Linked DNA regions of Homo sapiens: regions 2 and 3 are each reported to be linked to region 1. Evidence: microRNA targets listed by miRTarBase, many of them from high-throughput screens and not tested one by one. Region 1 holds a microRNA gene; each other region holds the end of a gene's coding sequence.
The links. Region 1 holds the annotated microRNA hsa-miR-335-3p (UUUUUCAUUAUUGCUCCUGACC, at 2,172-2,193, shown strand). A microRNA usually pairs through its seed, bases 2 to 8, with sites in the 3' UTR of a target mRNA and lowers its output. Matches are read on the target gene's strand: a 7mer-m8 pairs with bases 2 to 8, a 7mer-A1 pairs with bases 2 to 7 and ends in A, and an 8mer does both.

Region 2: miRTarBase lists FOXP1 as a target of hsa-miR-335-3p. Seed matches in the 3' UTR shown: 7mer-A1 at 640-646, 7mer-A1 at 1,546-1,552, 7mer-A1 at 3,324-3,330 and 8mer at 4,455-4,462.
Region 3: the mRNA of MIDN is a reported target of hsa-miR-335-3p. Seed matches in the 3' UTR shown: 7mer-A1 at 1,851-1,857, 7mer-m8 at 2,727-2,733 and 7mer-A1 at 2,742-2,748.

What each region holds. Positions count from the first base shown.
Region 1 is chr7:130,493,991-130,499,064 of GRCh38, forward strand. MIR335 (microRNA 335) reads left to right here and starts at 2,121; the gene lies at 2,121-2,214. MEST (mesoderm specific transcript) reads left to right here. Exons shown (of 12, transcript NM_002402.4): 2 at 1,378-1,532; 3 at 3,166-3,245; 4 at 3,946-4,023; 5 at 4,149-4,285; 6 at 4,429-4,487.
Region 2 is chr3:70,954,618-70,959,682 of GRCh38, reverse strand. It overlaps FOXP1 (forkhead box P1), which reads left to right. Exons shown (of 21, transcript NM_001349338.3): 21 at 292-4,975. The coding sequence ends at 436. Among named protein-coding and RNA genes, the nearest start is that of FOXP1-AS1, 330 kb to the left of the region's middle.
Region 3 is chr19:1,256,338-1,261,402 of GRCh38, forward strand. MIDN (midnolin) reads left to right here. Exons shown (of 9, transcript NM_001388306.1): 9 at 658-2,806. The coding sequence ends at 935. It also overlaps LOC107985303. Among named protein-coding and RNA genes, the nearest start is that of MIDN, 10 kb to the left of the region's middle. RefSeq lists enhancers at 2,654-2,803, 3,224-3,383, 5,034-5,065 and silencers at 3,824-4,743, 4,754-4,993.

The DNA.
Region 1 (5,074 bases):
GGTTCTATCCGTCTTATGGACAGGTACTTTGGAGAAAAAAAGAAATGACTGCCCTAATAATGCCTAAAAAATAGCCTGGGGAGCTGACATTGTTTAAGAAACATGGTTATTTTACCACTGTAAAACCACAGGCTTGTTTTTAGATTTTAGCAAAAAGTATCAGGGATATGGGGGGGAAAAGTATCTTGTAAGTTGAGGAAGTTAGCGAACGGGTAGGTAGATTACAGGCAATAGGGAAGAATGTGTGTACAGACGGAAAGCCATTTCCCCCAGGGCTTTAGCAATTAATTTATTTCAGCTCTATGACAACTCTAATTTTAGTTTTGGAGGGTATTATTTCCATTCTGGCTGTTTTGAGAGAACTTCCATTCTACTGACAATTCTTGATCTGTTGACCATCAGAAGTCATAGACTTGAAACAGAACGGTTTATAATTCCTGTTTGGCACTCCTTGTCAATGTGGATAAACTGACTTGTGCCTTTGAAGTCCTGGGCATGGGAGGGTTGGGTGTACCAACCAGTGCTCTTTTTCCAAAGACAAAATCAATTCTCACACGCTGGGTATGAGTTATGCCTTATCTGGGGGTGGGGGAGCATCTTAGGAAATTAAATGGAAACTTAAAGAGTCTGCTAAGAAAAGCAGAAATGTAATCTACCGCCTTGACCTCTCAAGAGATTAGATATTCAGGGTCATGACAAAGCTGCTTATGTTGGAATACACAGTGCAGCTATCTTACTTTCACAGACTGTTTACCCTGAGCAGTTTCTCAGCCCAAATCCAGAAAGGAGTACTAAATGGGGCTTCATTTAGGCAGGAGGGCTGAAAATCAGGAGTAGCTCTCTGCTTGAGGACATGTGATAAGTTACTACACACACACACTCTTTAAAACATGAGATATAGCACATATATATTTTTTGAACATTTTACTGGTTGGGGGTAGTGGGTAGATGGTAGAGCTTTTGGAGTAAATAAGAAAGAAGTTATTTTTTTCCTGGGAAGCCTTGATAAAAGTCAACGAAAGAGTGTCCAGCATTTAAGTCATGTCCCTTTTATTTATATAAAGTCCTCTTCAGCAGGTATTGGGAAGACCACAAGGGTAGGGGCTAAGGGGTTAAAGTCGGGGAGCAGAGGCAGAAGATTATATGTTGAAATAATGTATTTTTTTTCCTTAAGATTAGAATGATGAACAAATATGGTGAGTGCTATGGCAGACAGAGGTTTGATTATAGTCTCGGTCAGCTTTGTGCCTATGTGAAGGGCAATGTAATCATTGCATGGTAACAGCAATCTCCCACCCCATCTTACCAGGTTTTGGTTTGTAGATGAGTGGACAATGTTACCTGACTGCTTACAGTGGGTCTCTGCTTTTCCTACAGGATGAGGGAGTGGTGGGTCCAGGTGGGGCTGCTGGCCGTGCCCCTGCTTGCTGCGTACCTGCACATCCCACCCCCTCAGCTCTCCCCTGCCCTTCACTCATGGAAGTCTTCAGGCAAGTTTTTCACTTACAAGGGACTGCGTATCTTCTACCAAGGTAAGAAGTGGACTATTGGAAGTCCTGCGTGTATCGGTCACATAAGTCCCAGCTGAGGTATTTATTTTGTGGCTATTGGTCTCTTGTTGCTCCTTAATGATGGAGGAGAGTATCTCTCTCTCTTTCTGTGTAGTGTGCTTGCAGAGAAGCGCAGAAAACTGCTGGGAGAATGGGGGTAGGGACTGAGATTCCAACCTGCAGACCTTACCTTTTAGTATAAGTTTTCTTTGTAGCTTGATATGTATTCCAATATTAGTTTTTTTTTTTTTTTGAGCAACCTGTCAGGTAATATATAAAATATTAATAGATATAACCACCATTGGTTCTCTCTCCTTACCATCCCTGATTTCATTTTTTCTGTAGATTATTTGTAGTGTAACTGTGATTTAAGTCTTGATACCATTATATAAATTAATTTGCTAGTGATGATGATTATTATGACCACTACTTATCAAGTAATTACCATATGCCAGGCACTGAGTTATGTTTTCAGCCTTCATTGTTTAATCTTTACAACAGCATTTGGAGATAGGTGCCATTAACCTCATTTTATAGGTGAAGAAACTGAGAAACAGATTGGAAATGATTTGTTTTGAGCGGGGGTCAAGAGCAATAACGAAAAATGTTTGTCATAAACCGTTTTTCATTATTGCTCCTGACCTCCTCTCATTTGCTATATTCAATTAAGTAAGTATACAATTTTTATTATGTTGGCTTGGGTTACTTCCAGTTTTACTGTTTTAGAAAACTAATGTTGAAGTAAAAGCTTCATGTCCATACAGTTTATTTTTTCCTTACATTTTCAAACTATACTACTTGTATAAATGGAATGATTTTATTTGCACAGATTCTCAAGAACAAAACTCTTAGGCTAAAGTATATACAATTTTTAACTGCTTCTAAATTATTTTTGAAAACCTTATTACCAAATTTTCATGTCACTGGCAGTATATGAATATACCTGTTCTAATCCCATACTATTAGCAAGGTTAATATTGTCTAAATGTTTACCTAATTTAGATGATGCTGAATGCTTCCATATTGTCATATGCATTAAAAAAGTTCATGTTTATGTTGATTAAGCCCTTTTTATAGTTGACAGGATTTTGTAATAGTTTTATTATGTTTTTGATGTTAGATTGGGTCTCCTGCTGAATAAAAAGTGCTGAGCAAACAGCATAAGCTAAAGGTGTTCCTTGGGAATAGTTGCTGTATCTTAGAGAATTTCTGTGAGGCCATTCATGATAAAGTACAAAGAATTTGTAGTTTATGTGTTGTGATCATATGCTTTTAACTGAAAATTTACTTTTCACTGAAAAAATTTGCATATTACAGAACAAAAGGAGAAATGGGGAGATGCTGTTTAAAAACACCTAGGTGAAAGTAAACAAGGTGCCTTCAAGTATTTTCACATAGCATGATTTTTACAATGTTTTAATATACAGATTGAAAGGAGAAAAGGCCTGTTCTCACCTAACGCAGTTAAGCTTACATTTTACAAATAATTGTGTCATTTTAATGTCAATTTGGTCACAGTTGCTTGTTCTTTGTATCAGATTACTTAGATTTTAACATCTTCGAGGTTATTTTTATAGGGATTTGGCATAATTGATTGTACTTTCCTTCTTCCTAGACTCTGTGGGTGTGGTTGGAAGTCCAGAGATAGTTGTGCTTTTACACGGTTTTCCAACATCCAGCTACGACTGGTACAAGGTAATGAAGTCAGACTTCTACGTCCTACTATGTCTTAAAAAATCTCGGCCGGGCGCGGGGGCTCAAATCCTAGCACTTTGGGAGGCTGAGGTGGGAGGATGACCTGAGGTCAGGAGTTTGAGACCAGCCAGGCCAACATGGCAAAACCCCATCTCTACTAAAAGTATAAAAATTGGCCAGGCATGGTGGCACAAGCCTGTAATCCCAGCTACTTGGGAGGCTGAGGCAGGAGAATCGCTTGAACCCGGGAGGCAGAGGTTGCAGTGAGCTGAGATTGCACCACTGCACTTCAGCCTAGGTGACAGAGCGAGAGTCTGTCTCAAAAAAAAATTTTTTTTTAATAAAAATTTAAAAAACCTCAAGGATTTTGTTGTCAGCACCAGAAGGCTCTTGCACATTTGAATTGCTTTTAAAAAAACATTAAATGTTGAACTGTTCCTTATTTACTGAAGGGAATAAACAACTCCTTGGCACTCTGGAAGGGATCACTGCCAAGTTACCCTCCCTCAACAGGGATTAATTACCAGGAATAAAGCATTTTCCAAGAGGATCATCTGTGGGACCTGTGGTAGTTTCATGGCGTTTTCTCTTTATGGAAGTCTGTTAAGCCAAGATAGGGCTGAAGCTCCTGTGCAACTGTAGGTCTGGTGAAAGGGAGGGGCAGGAGCAGAAAGCCCAAATCATCGTTTCTTTCTTGTAGATTTGGGAAGGTCTGACCTTGAGGTTTCATCGGGTGATTGCCCTTGATTTCTTAGGCTTTGGCTTCAGTGACAAACCGGTAAGCAGCACCTATGTGGGGCTGGTGATGGGGTGTGGGGGCAGACGCAGACTATGAGGGTCAGGCTGGCAGAGAGAGCTGTCCTCATGACTTCATCCTGTGTATGTGGGCTTTCCTTTCCTCAGAGACCACATCACTATTCCATATTTGAGCAGGCCAGCATCGTGGAAGCGCTTTTGCGGCATCTGGGGCTCCAGAACCGCAGGATCAACCTTCTTTCTCATGACTATGGAGATATTGTTGCTCAGGAGCTTCTCTACAGGTCAGTGGAGCTTCAGACTTCAGCTTATGATGCTAGGAAAGTACATTGTTTCTGGACTGTTTGTATCCTTTTTCTCTCGTTTTCAGCGGTGCACTGGTTTAAGTTTGCTCAGCTACATGTGTGTTTCCTCGTCTCCCTTCTAGGTACAAGCAGAATCGATCTGGTCGGCTTACCATAAAGAGTCTCTGTCTGTCAAATGGAGGTAATTGCCTTGGCGGTAGGTAGAAAGTGGGTGTAATCTAGAAGGGCCATCTTTAGATACAGCGGCACCTAAATGGTAATCTGATAATATTTCAAGTAGACATAATTAAACTATGGGATCTCTACCTCTTCTGTGCCATCAACTCCTTTGGTGGTCTGACAAGATTTATGGACCCTTTCTCAGAATGTTTTAAAATAAAGAAACAAACAGCATTACAAAGGATAGTGACTTTACTTACATAGTCAATAAAAAGCTGCATTATAGTCACATGTGCTTTTTCAATGCATTAGATAGCAAGTTCTAGTGGAGGACCTAGTAACAGCTATATCAGAAGGAGTGAGGAGTGTAAAGACTGTTTGCCATATCTGAAACAACTGCAATAGGTTATGAGAGTGTAGGATTGAAGATACAGAAAAAAGCCACAAGTGTTTCTAATACTACTATGATGTTAGTGTAGAAAATCCTTACTTAATGTCATCAATGGGTTCTTGGAAACTGTGACTTTAAATGAAACGTTATAATGGAACCAATTTTTTTTCTCATCAATGTTTTAAAGAAAGGATGTTATTCAAGGACCTGCTGTACCT
Region 2 (5,065 bases), not on the chromosome of region 1:
TTTACGCAGTGATGCAAATGTTCCGTCTGTCTCTGTGCTGGCCAGAATTAACCGCTAGTCACATGGGGCCTTTGAACATAAATGTGGCTAGCACAACTCAGAAACTGAATATTAAATGTAGTAAGATTTCGTTCATTTCAATTTAAAGAGCCACGTGTGGCTAATGGTAACAATACTGGACAGAGTTCTAGTTCTAGAGTGCGGCTTTTCTGTTGCCCCAAACTTTTCAGTGCACCTGAGCTGCAATGGGCTGGGAAGTACCCTCACTGAACCTCTGCATATTTTTTCCAGGCATCCTGTACACGTCAAAGAAGAGCCCCTCGATCCAGAGGAAGCTGAAGGGCCCCTGTCCTTAGTGACAACAGCCAACCACAGTCCAGATTTTGACCATGACAGAGATTACGAAGATGAACCAGTAAACGAGGACATGGAGTGACTATCGGGGCGGGCCAACCCCGAGAATGAAGATTGGAAAAAGGAAAAAAAAAAAAACACGTCAAAAGTTAGCAGTGAAATTGTTCTCCATTTGTTGTACAGTCTGGAGGATTTTCACTACGTTTTGACAACTCTGAAATGTGTTAACTCTTAGTGCCATCAAGAACCCCATTTGGGAGTATTTTTGATTTTTCTACTTTTTGTTGAAAAAAGGAATTTGTACTCTGTGCATTGGATGGACTTGTTTGGTACTTGGGATTTTCCTCTCTTAACCGTCAACATCAGTGTTGTAAATTTGCTAAACTGATTCACTTTTAGCAGCAGACTTTGAACTGCAGTCCTGCCAACGTTGGACACTGAGGACGCCCGACAGAGCTTGTGCACCTAAGCTGCAGACCAAGCCTTTGCCCAGAATTTAAGGATTCCAATGGACGACCTATTTGCACAGTACTGCATGTTGATTATCACTGCCTTTACTCCTTTTTTTTTTTTTTTTTTTTTTTTTTTTTTGCTTCCAGTTGGGATGGGGAAGGCCTTTGTGTGTGTATTGGGGGGAGGGGTTAAAAAATAATTATCCCAAACTTTTTAATGTATTGCTTTTTTTTTTTTTTTTTTTCCTTCTACTATACCATTTTAAGTTCTGACCTCAGGCCTCCATTTGGGCCGATGGCCTCTTGGAGGCTTAAAGTTTTCTGTACCTTGTGATGAATGTTAATAGGTGTTTTTATTATACAAAGCTGAATGTCATTTCTCGTTTGTAGCTTTCTGTCACTCATTCCATCTTCCTTCAGACATCACCACGTTTCTCTAAAGTCAGAAAACATTCCGTTTTGGTCTTTTTCAAAAAGGTCCCAAATGCTGCACTCTACACATGAAGGCCCTCTCACACAGACGTGACGTCCTGCCAGAAAGAGAATGAATGACAGAAAAAAAAAAGAGAGACAAACTCTAGGAACAATGCCGATTCATTCCACGCAGCAGTATTGGGGGTGGTTCGGGGGAGGGGTGTTTCGGATTTTCTTTTTTTCTTTTCTTTTCTTTTTTTTTTTTTGCAGCAACCATTAATAAATGCCACCACATTCTACCAGCACAAGGAAACATAGGCAGCACTGAAAAAAAAAAAAAAGCTCATATTAATTAGACTGACAATATGGCCTTGGAAGGCTCTCCCTTGTGGAACCAAGTTGCCATGGGCCTTGGGTGCTCTGCGATAACGGGTGTGGGTTGGTTTTGTTTGCAAAATGGCCAAAAAAAAAAACCGGCTTCCCCGAGCAGCTGCCCTGAAAGTAGGGGTGGCGGCGGCGGCGCTGAGTTTATACATTAGTTCAGACCTACTTGGTGGCATTAAACTGTTTGAATGCAAATTCGATTTCAGATTGAACTTGTTAAGGGAGTTAACGAGGGCTGAGTTCAGCAAATGCTAAAGTGTTAATTTCAAATATGCAAATTTGGTACTGCAGTTTGTTATGCAATATTATATCACCAACCCAGTATCACAAAAACTCATAGAAGATATCATGTAGGCCCTGGGCTTTGGGGGGGTCCCAAACATGGTATGCAGAAATGTGATGGTTACAGGTCAGTACAACCTCAGTCCTTAGAACCCCTCCACACTTCAGCTCTGCACCCACTTTCCTGTCATTTATTTATATAGGACTGTAGTTTTTTTTAGTTCGAGAGCCTTTCGAAGCTTAATTTATATTCTTTCTTTGTACCTTTTTTCTAAAATTACCAAAGATATTACACAAAGGTAAATTATGTTCTCTGTTTTATGCTTTATCTGATGAAGCCAAATATCCTCTTATTGTTGATCAAAGGAGGCAAAAGAATTTAGAGGCAAATGACAAGCGATAGGCTATTGCAACCTGAGAAAGAGAACTGCTCCTTCATCGTAAATTTAGAAGACCAAGTAGATAATGGAACCAAAGTTGTTACTTTTTTCTAGTAGTTATTTTTCCTTTTTCTTTTTGTGTACCTCTACAGAGACCAAAACTCATTCTCTTAAAGAGATTTTATGGGGCTACTGCAGATAAAAATAGGACACAATATTAAAGGAGCTACAGAAGGAAGGGAGTCCCATCTCAAAAAAAAAATGAATGTATGCCACTGCAATTAGAGTATCCAATAAAGGAGACAGTTTAGAGTCAGGACAGAAAAGCTTCCATAATTGAACTAGATTACATAATAGTATTTCTAGAAAAAGAGATATTTTTAGATTGTATGCCACTTTTGTTTAAGAACTGTGCTGTGATCACTGTATTAATTTTGGTTTATCTTGGCATATATCCTTCAGTTTGTTTTTATTTTTAATTTTTCCTTTTTTTCCGATTAGGCTTTGGTCAGCATTTTTCATTTAAAGAAAAGTAACACTCCCATCCACTCATAAGCTTGGTACAAAAACTTCTCTGGCAGTTACTTTTGAAGCTTCACTCTGCTTTCTGTATAAAGGGCAGTCTGTGGTCACGCAAGACTTTAAAAAAAAAAAAAAAAAAAAAAAAAAAAAAAAAAAAAAAAACTTTTCCAGGCAGCTTCATGATGTGCAGGCAGTAGCCAGACAGGGTCATGGGAAGGGGGCCCTGTGCTTCTAAACTGAGTGGTTGCTGGTTAGTTTGGTATTCAAAAGAGGATAAAAATCTGGTAGATTAGTTCATTCTCAGCATGTGTAGCTAGACATGAGTAAAGATAACAGCATGAGAAACTGTTAGTACGCATACCTCAGTTCAAACCTTTAGGGAATGATTAAAATTTAAAAAAAAAACATTTCACTCAGTTGCACTTAGTCGTATGTCTTGCATGCTTAGTCTAAAGACTGTAGCAAAAAAAAAAAAAAAAGAAAAATTAGATTTTACATATCTTTGCAGGTATCACAGCCTTGCAGAAGAACCAACTGAAAAAAAAATTCTCAGGCTTTACAGCAAGCAAACTTCACTATGATTTTTACAATTCTGATTCTGTATCCCCTGGGGGTTATCCCAGTTGCTTCTTTAGGATGGGGTTTATTACGTTGTACATATATCCCGATGTGTCTGTGTGAATCTTTGTCTTTTTTGGGGGAGGGCAGAGGGCGGTTCTTTTTTTAGATATTGTTCCTAAAAAGGAATAAATGCATACACCTGTTTGTCAAAACACCTTTGCTTTTTGTGCAACTGCTTTATATTAACGATACTAAAAAAAAATAGCTTTGGAAAAAAAACTACTGTATGTAACGGAATTGCAGAATATGCTGCACATGTATTTTATTTAGTTATCCTTGCTTTAAGAATATTGGATGACATTTCCTGACATGTGGGAGGGAGAAACTCCCTAACTTTTTTTTTCTGCTTTTAAACTGTAACATAGTTGAAGATTTCTTTTTTCTGTTCTCATTGATTGGAGCATTTTGTACAGGTTTTGTGTGTGTGTGTGTGTGTGTGTGCGCGCGTGCGTGTGTGTTAATCTGTTTTTTGATACATTCCTATCCCTTGTGTTTATCCTACCACTGCCTTCCTGGCTATCTTAAACAAGTTCATACATTTGAAAAGAAAAAAAAATGTTGTTTAAAAAATGTTTTCTCCTGCTGCAGTAAATATTTTGCATGATGAAATTCCAGGGTCACACTTTTCCAAGTTTATCAGTGAAGTAGTGATTAACAATGGGGAGTGTCAAAACTATTGAACTTTTGTATAAAAAAAAAAAAACTTTACAAGGTGCCAAGATGTAAAGAAAATCTGTTACTTTTTTTTTCTCAAAGAAAAGCATACATTAGGGAGGTAGTCCCGTGTGTCAGACAAATGCACTGTCAGGAATGAGGATCCAACCTACCTGTCCCTAGAGTCCGTCTTGTAAGATGAGTTAGGCTGCCCCTTGGACCAGCCACAAAATGGAATATCAAGGCTTATGTACATACGTGAAGAGTTACCACCAGTCCTGCCACCTTTGGACAGCTCTAACACCATCCCCAGCATCCAGTCAGACCTAGTAAAGAAAACCTTGGATTCTTAACCCAAGATAGGCTGTAAATCACTAGCTTTTTTTTCCTCATGAAAAAAAATAGAGTTAAAAAATATTTCCTCTCTTTTCCATATTCCAGCTGAACTCCGTTTCCAAAGGCACAAAGAAGAGTGTGCTTATTCAGATTTTGAATCTTTTTGGTACCTTTTGGTTAATGACATAGCCTCCTGAAATTCTGGATGTCTTCAAAGTCAGTTTTGCTTCTTTATCCTGAAAATCAGATTTACAATGCTGAAGGCATTTCTTGGGCCCAGTGTAGCTCACGCAATCTCTGCTACCCATAAGCCTTGATGAAGATGATACAGTCCGGACTGTGAGCATGGTGCTTCATGTATATGTGCTGCCAGTAACAAGAATTTTTTTGTTTTGTTTTGTTTTGTTTTGATAAGGCATAAAAGAAACTCATTCCTTGACATCAACTGTAATTCCATCATTCCATGTCTGCGGATACAGACAATAAAAAAAATGTTGTGTAGTCAGTACTAATTACTGACATTATAAGCATTCTCAAATGCAATAAAAATGCTGGTTGTTCACGCTGGTAGTAAAAGTTGCCACAGCCTAAGTTTGTTTCCCTTTCTGACCTGCTGATATTGTATGTTAGGCATATGCCTTAGGTTTATCACCAGCTGCTTCCAAT
Region 3 (5,065 bases), not on the chromosome of region 1:
CCAGGCGTGGTGGTGGGCGCCTGTAGTCCCAGCTACTCGGGAGGCTGAGACAGGAGAATGGCGTGAACCCAGAGGCGGAGCTTGCAGTGAGCCGAGATCGCGCCACTGCACTCCAGCCTGGGCGACAGAGCGAGACTCCGTCTCAAAAAAAAAAAAAAAAAACCAAGGTACAACCCCCAAGTATCTCCCCTCGGATCACAGAAGCGGCCAAGCCCCCTCCATGTAGGACTCCAGGAAGAATGAGGCAGGACAGTCCTGACCTCCCCAGCTCATGGCTGAGCTGGAGAATTAGAAGCCAGCTGCGTAGCTGGGACTCCAGGCAAACACCACCATGCCCAGCTAATTTTGTAATTTTTGTAGAGGAGGGGTCTCGCTCTGTGGCTCAGGCCTGTCTCGAACTCCTGAGGTTGCCCAGGCCTGTCTCGAACTCCTGAGCTCAAGCGATTCTCCTGCCTCGGCCTCCCAAAGTGCTGAGATTACAGGCGTGAACCACTGTGCCCGGCATGGTGGATGTCCTTGACTGTTTCCTTTGCTGACCTCCCTCCAGGGAGGGCAGGACTGTGTCTGACCTCAGGGGCATTTGCTGGGGTCTGGGGTGGTCCTCTGTGTTCAGCAGGTGGAGGCTTTGGGAGTCACAGGCCACTACCTCCTTTGCAGGGGACCGGCTTCGGCAGACAGAAAACCGCGCCACGCGCTGCAAGGTGGAACGGCTGCAGCTGCTTCTGCAGCAGAAACGGCTCCGTAGAAAGGCCCGGCGGGACGCGCGGGGTCCGTACCACTGGTCACCCAGCCGCAAGGCCGGCCGCAGCGACAGCAGTAGCAGCGGGGGCGGCGGCAGCCCCAGCGAGGCCTCCGGCTTGGGCCTCGACTTCGAGGACTCCGTGTGGAAGCCAGAAGTCAACCCTGACATCAAGTCAGAGTTCGTGGTGGCTTAGGATCTTCGGATCGGCCACCCTCGCCCCTCGCACCCCAGCCCAGGGCGGCGGGGACTCCGAGAGCCCCGGAGAGAACGTGGCCCAGCCCTGGAGGGCAGGCGGCCACTCCCCCAGCCAGAAGTCTTTTTTTCTTTTCTTCTTTTTTATTATTTTTTTCTTTTTTTAAAAAGTTCTGACCGTGGTTTCCTGGACTCTTCATGGGCTTTGCTTCCTACCTCCTTCACCCTTCACTCCTGCCCTCCTCTTCCTCCTCCTCCTCCTCCTCCGTCTGTCTCCTTTCACCTCTGCGCCAGGTCGGTCCTCCCTGCCAACCTTCCCCAGCTCCAATATGTAGCAGTCTCTCTGGATGGCGGAGAGTGAAGGAGACGGAGAAACGCGCCCCATCCCTTCCGCCGCCTCCTTTCCCCCCCGACCCTATTCAGGTTTTAAGTCAAAAATGTCGATATGTCATTATGCACTTTACAGATGAGGGGAGGGGCCGCAGTGCGCAGAACCCACCCCACCCCCCAGTGCAGACTTCGGGGTCTCCACCCCAGGCCAGCAGCGCCCACTGGGCTACAGCAAGCCAACAGGTCACAGAAGCCAACGAGGGGACTGTTTCTCTTCCACTCCTATCCTCTTTTCTTGATCTTTTTTTTGCATTTTCCTTCATTTCTTTAACAAGGAGAGCAAAGCTGTTTTAGCAGAGGCTGGGGCTGAGGTCCCCATGGGGTTTGGGTGCAGGGGCATGGCACCCTTTCCTGTCGGGAAGGGAGAGGGGAACTACCCCCCCAGCCTGCCCTCCGCCCCGCCCCAGCCGGCGGACTGTGCTGTTTCCTCCGCCCCCACTCCCGTGTTTTCTGACCTCCTGCCTGAGTTTGGGGTATTTATAGACTATTAATTTTCTGACTGAGCCAATAGTGGTTGGGGAACTCTTGAAAAAGGGGAGAGAATGGCTGGGTGCTGGGGAGTTCCCCCCTCCGAGCCCTCCTTCCCGGCCCAACCTGAGGGATGTGGATTTGGGACTGTCTGGGGGCCCCTCCTGCAGCGAGGATGGGAGGGGGTGCTGAGCTGTGAATCCCCTGGGCAGGGGGCGACAACTCCGTGTAGCATTAACCCCCGTGGCGGGGTCCGCTGCTGGTCTAATTTGGACCCCCTGCCTCTCAGTGCCCCTGCCCTAGGGGTGTCTGTCTCCAGAGGGGAGGGACAAATCCCCTACTGGGGCCATTTCAATGGGGTAGTTTTTGGATTTTTTTCCCCACTCACTTTTTATTTTTTAATGATAATGGAGATGTCTGGACCCTTCCTCACCCCACCTGTCGGTCTTGTCCTGGCTCTGCCTGTCCCCCACCGTTGTTCTCGTAGGTGAACCCCAGGTCCTCAACTCCCCCCCTTTATGTGTTGAAAGTTAATGGTTTCAGATGTGAACATCACGTGTTATAACTGTAGCGCTGTAAATTTTTTTGTGGGAGGGTGGGCAGGGAGGGGTCCCAGAGGGTAGAGCTCAAGGATTTTGGGTTTTGTTTTGTTTTCATTTTTCCAAAAAAAAAAGAAAAAAAAATAGAAAAAAAAGGAGTAAAAGGGGCGGGTTTGTTTTTTGAAGAACTGTCTTGGATACCTATTTAAATGTGTGTTCTGTTTTGTTTTTTAACGATTTTTAAATAACGTCTGTGCCTCCACTGGTTGAGGGTGGAACCTCCAGGCAGGAACCGGCTCGCCACCCTCTGCCCGGTAAGGGCTGCCCAAGAAAGCATTACCCGCCCTCGGGGGGTCGGGCTGTGGGGGTCCCGGCACCTGGCGTGAGTTTCATGTATGAAAACATAAAATTGAAAAAAAAAAAAAAACCTACACGAGCACCGTGATTTCAAGTAATAAACAGAAAATGAAACACACATTGACTCCCGCCTGCTCGCCTAGTGGGGGGATCTGGCCTTGGTTGGGAGGGTTCCTGGGGTGGGATGTCAGCTCAGGGAGTCAGAGGGACTGACCTGGGTCCCAAGGCCCCGAAGAGGGGGTGGGGCAGGGGTCAGGGCCCTGAGAATTTCCCACGCTCCTTCCCCGGCTGCCGGGTGGGCAGGAAGCAGCCAGGGTGGGAGGGAGGAGCCCAGCCACTTCCTGGTACCCAAGGCCGGAAGTCCCTTAGGGTGTGGGGCGAGGGCCTGCCTGCCTGCTTCGTGGCCTGGGCAGGACCCTGGCCCCCTCAGGACCTGCCAGTATGGGGGAGACGCGACCACCAGCTCTCCCCAGCCACAGGAGTCGGGGACTCCCACTCTGCCACACCCACCTGCTCCCCTTCCTGGAGTCTCACATCTGTGTGGCTTGCTGCAGGGAGATCACCAGGCCGACTGGGAGGACCTAGGACTCCGCAGGGTACCTTGGGCTGGCAGGTGATACAGGCCTGGCTTGACCCAGCCCTGGGGGGCCTCTCTGGCCACACCTCCTGACATTCCAGCCCTTCCCAGACCTGGCCTTCAGCTCCAAACCTCCCGGCCTTTGCCCCCTGTCTAGGAACACCCCTGGTCCGGCTGTCCCTTGCTGTCTGGGAACTTCCCCAGCCTGCGCCTTCCACCCCTGTCCACCCCGTCCCGCAGACCCCACCCTTCCCTCTCTCTGTCCCTAGCCTGGAGCTCCCCGTGAGCCTCACCAGGACTGAGTCCTCTCTGGGGTCCCACCTCCACCCATGTCCGGGCTGGGCAGAGATGAGGCAATAACACTATTTCATGTCTTTTTTTAAATTTTGTAACCTGTATTTCCTCAGGTAACAAGAGTTGCCTATGAGAAGTAATTGGGCTCCCATTTTATAGATGGGAGAACAGAGGCCCAAAGAGGAACATCACTTGGCCCAGAGGATTTGGGGTGTTTGTTCAATGATGTGACCTCCACCCCTTATCCCATCTCTAGGGGCCCCAGTACCGGGAGCCCCCAGGGGAAGGGGCACAGGTTCAGAGAGTGGCCTGGGAGCACCTTCCTGAGACCCCTCTGCCCCTCCCAACGCCCAGTCAACCCCAAATCATCGCACGCCCACGGCAGGAAGGCGGATGCCCAGTCAGGCGGCACCCACCCCCCGCCCCGTCCCTGGTGCGGATGTCCCCTCGGGGCTCAGGGTGGGGGTGCGGGTCACCGACGCCAGGCCTGGGGTCAAGGCGAGGGCCCCAGGGCGCCACCGCCCCCTCGCTGGGCGGGGTGGGAAGGAGGAAGGAGGATGTTGTCTGAAGCACCTGCTGAATCACAGGGGCTGTGTCTGTAGCCTGCAGGGTGGGGGGCGCGTCCCCTGCACTCCAGGACCCGCCCCTCGGGATGCCGACCCCCACCCCAGACTGGGGATCCCAGGGGTCAAGGCTGTGCCCTGGGGGCGTGGGGTGGGGTATGGAGCTCCAGGCTCAGAGCCCTGGCCTGGTAGGGTCAGCCCAACCAGGGGTGCAGCGGGCGGAGGGGCGGCAGGCGGAGGCCAAGTGTGCGTAGGGAAGCACGGAGAGGTAAACTGAGGCACAAAGAGGGCAGGGACCGCTGGGATCTCGCGGGGCGGGGTCGGCCCTGGATCGCTCCCTTCCCCCAACCATTGAGGAAAAAGCTGAATGGGAGGGGGCGGCCCCCGGAAACCCGCCGGGATGGAAACGCGGTTTCCAGGGCAACGCGCCGCGAAAGGAGCCTGACGTCACCCCGGGTAGGGCGCCCTGCCCGCCCCCGTCCGCGCGTCGCGCGGCCCAGGCCCCGCCCACCAGCGGGGAAGCCTCATTGGTGATCGCACCGCTCGCTCATCGGCGTGCCCCAGTAGCAGCGCGACGAAGCCTCCAGAAGGCGGGACTTCAGCCCGGCAGCGCCGAGTGCGCAGGCGCAAGCGCGGAGGCGCTGCAGCCCCGCCTCTCTCCCCGCGCGTCTGCAAAGTTGGGGGCGGGAGGCGCAGCCGAGGGTCTGACGGCTGCGGCGGGGCCTGGACGGAAGAGGGGGCGAGCCCCGGGGCGCCGCACGTGGACCCCCGGCACGGGCACGCTCACGTGCACCCGTCCTTTCACGCCAACGCGTTTCCTGCTGCCCCCACCCCTGCACCACTGCACGTCCCAGACCCCGGCCCAGCCTCCCCGCGGTCCCTAGGCTGGGGGAGCTCAGACAGGAGGCTAGGAGGAGGGGGACTTTGGGGCTGAGGCTTTGCC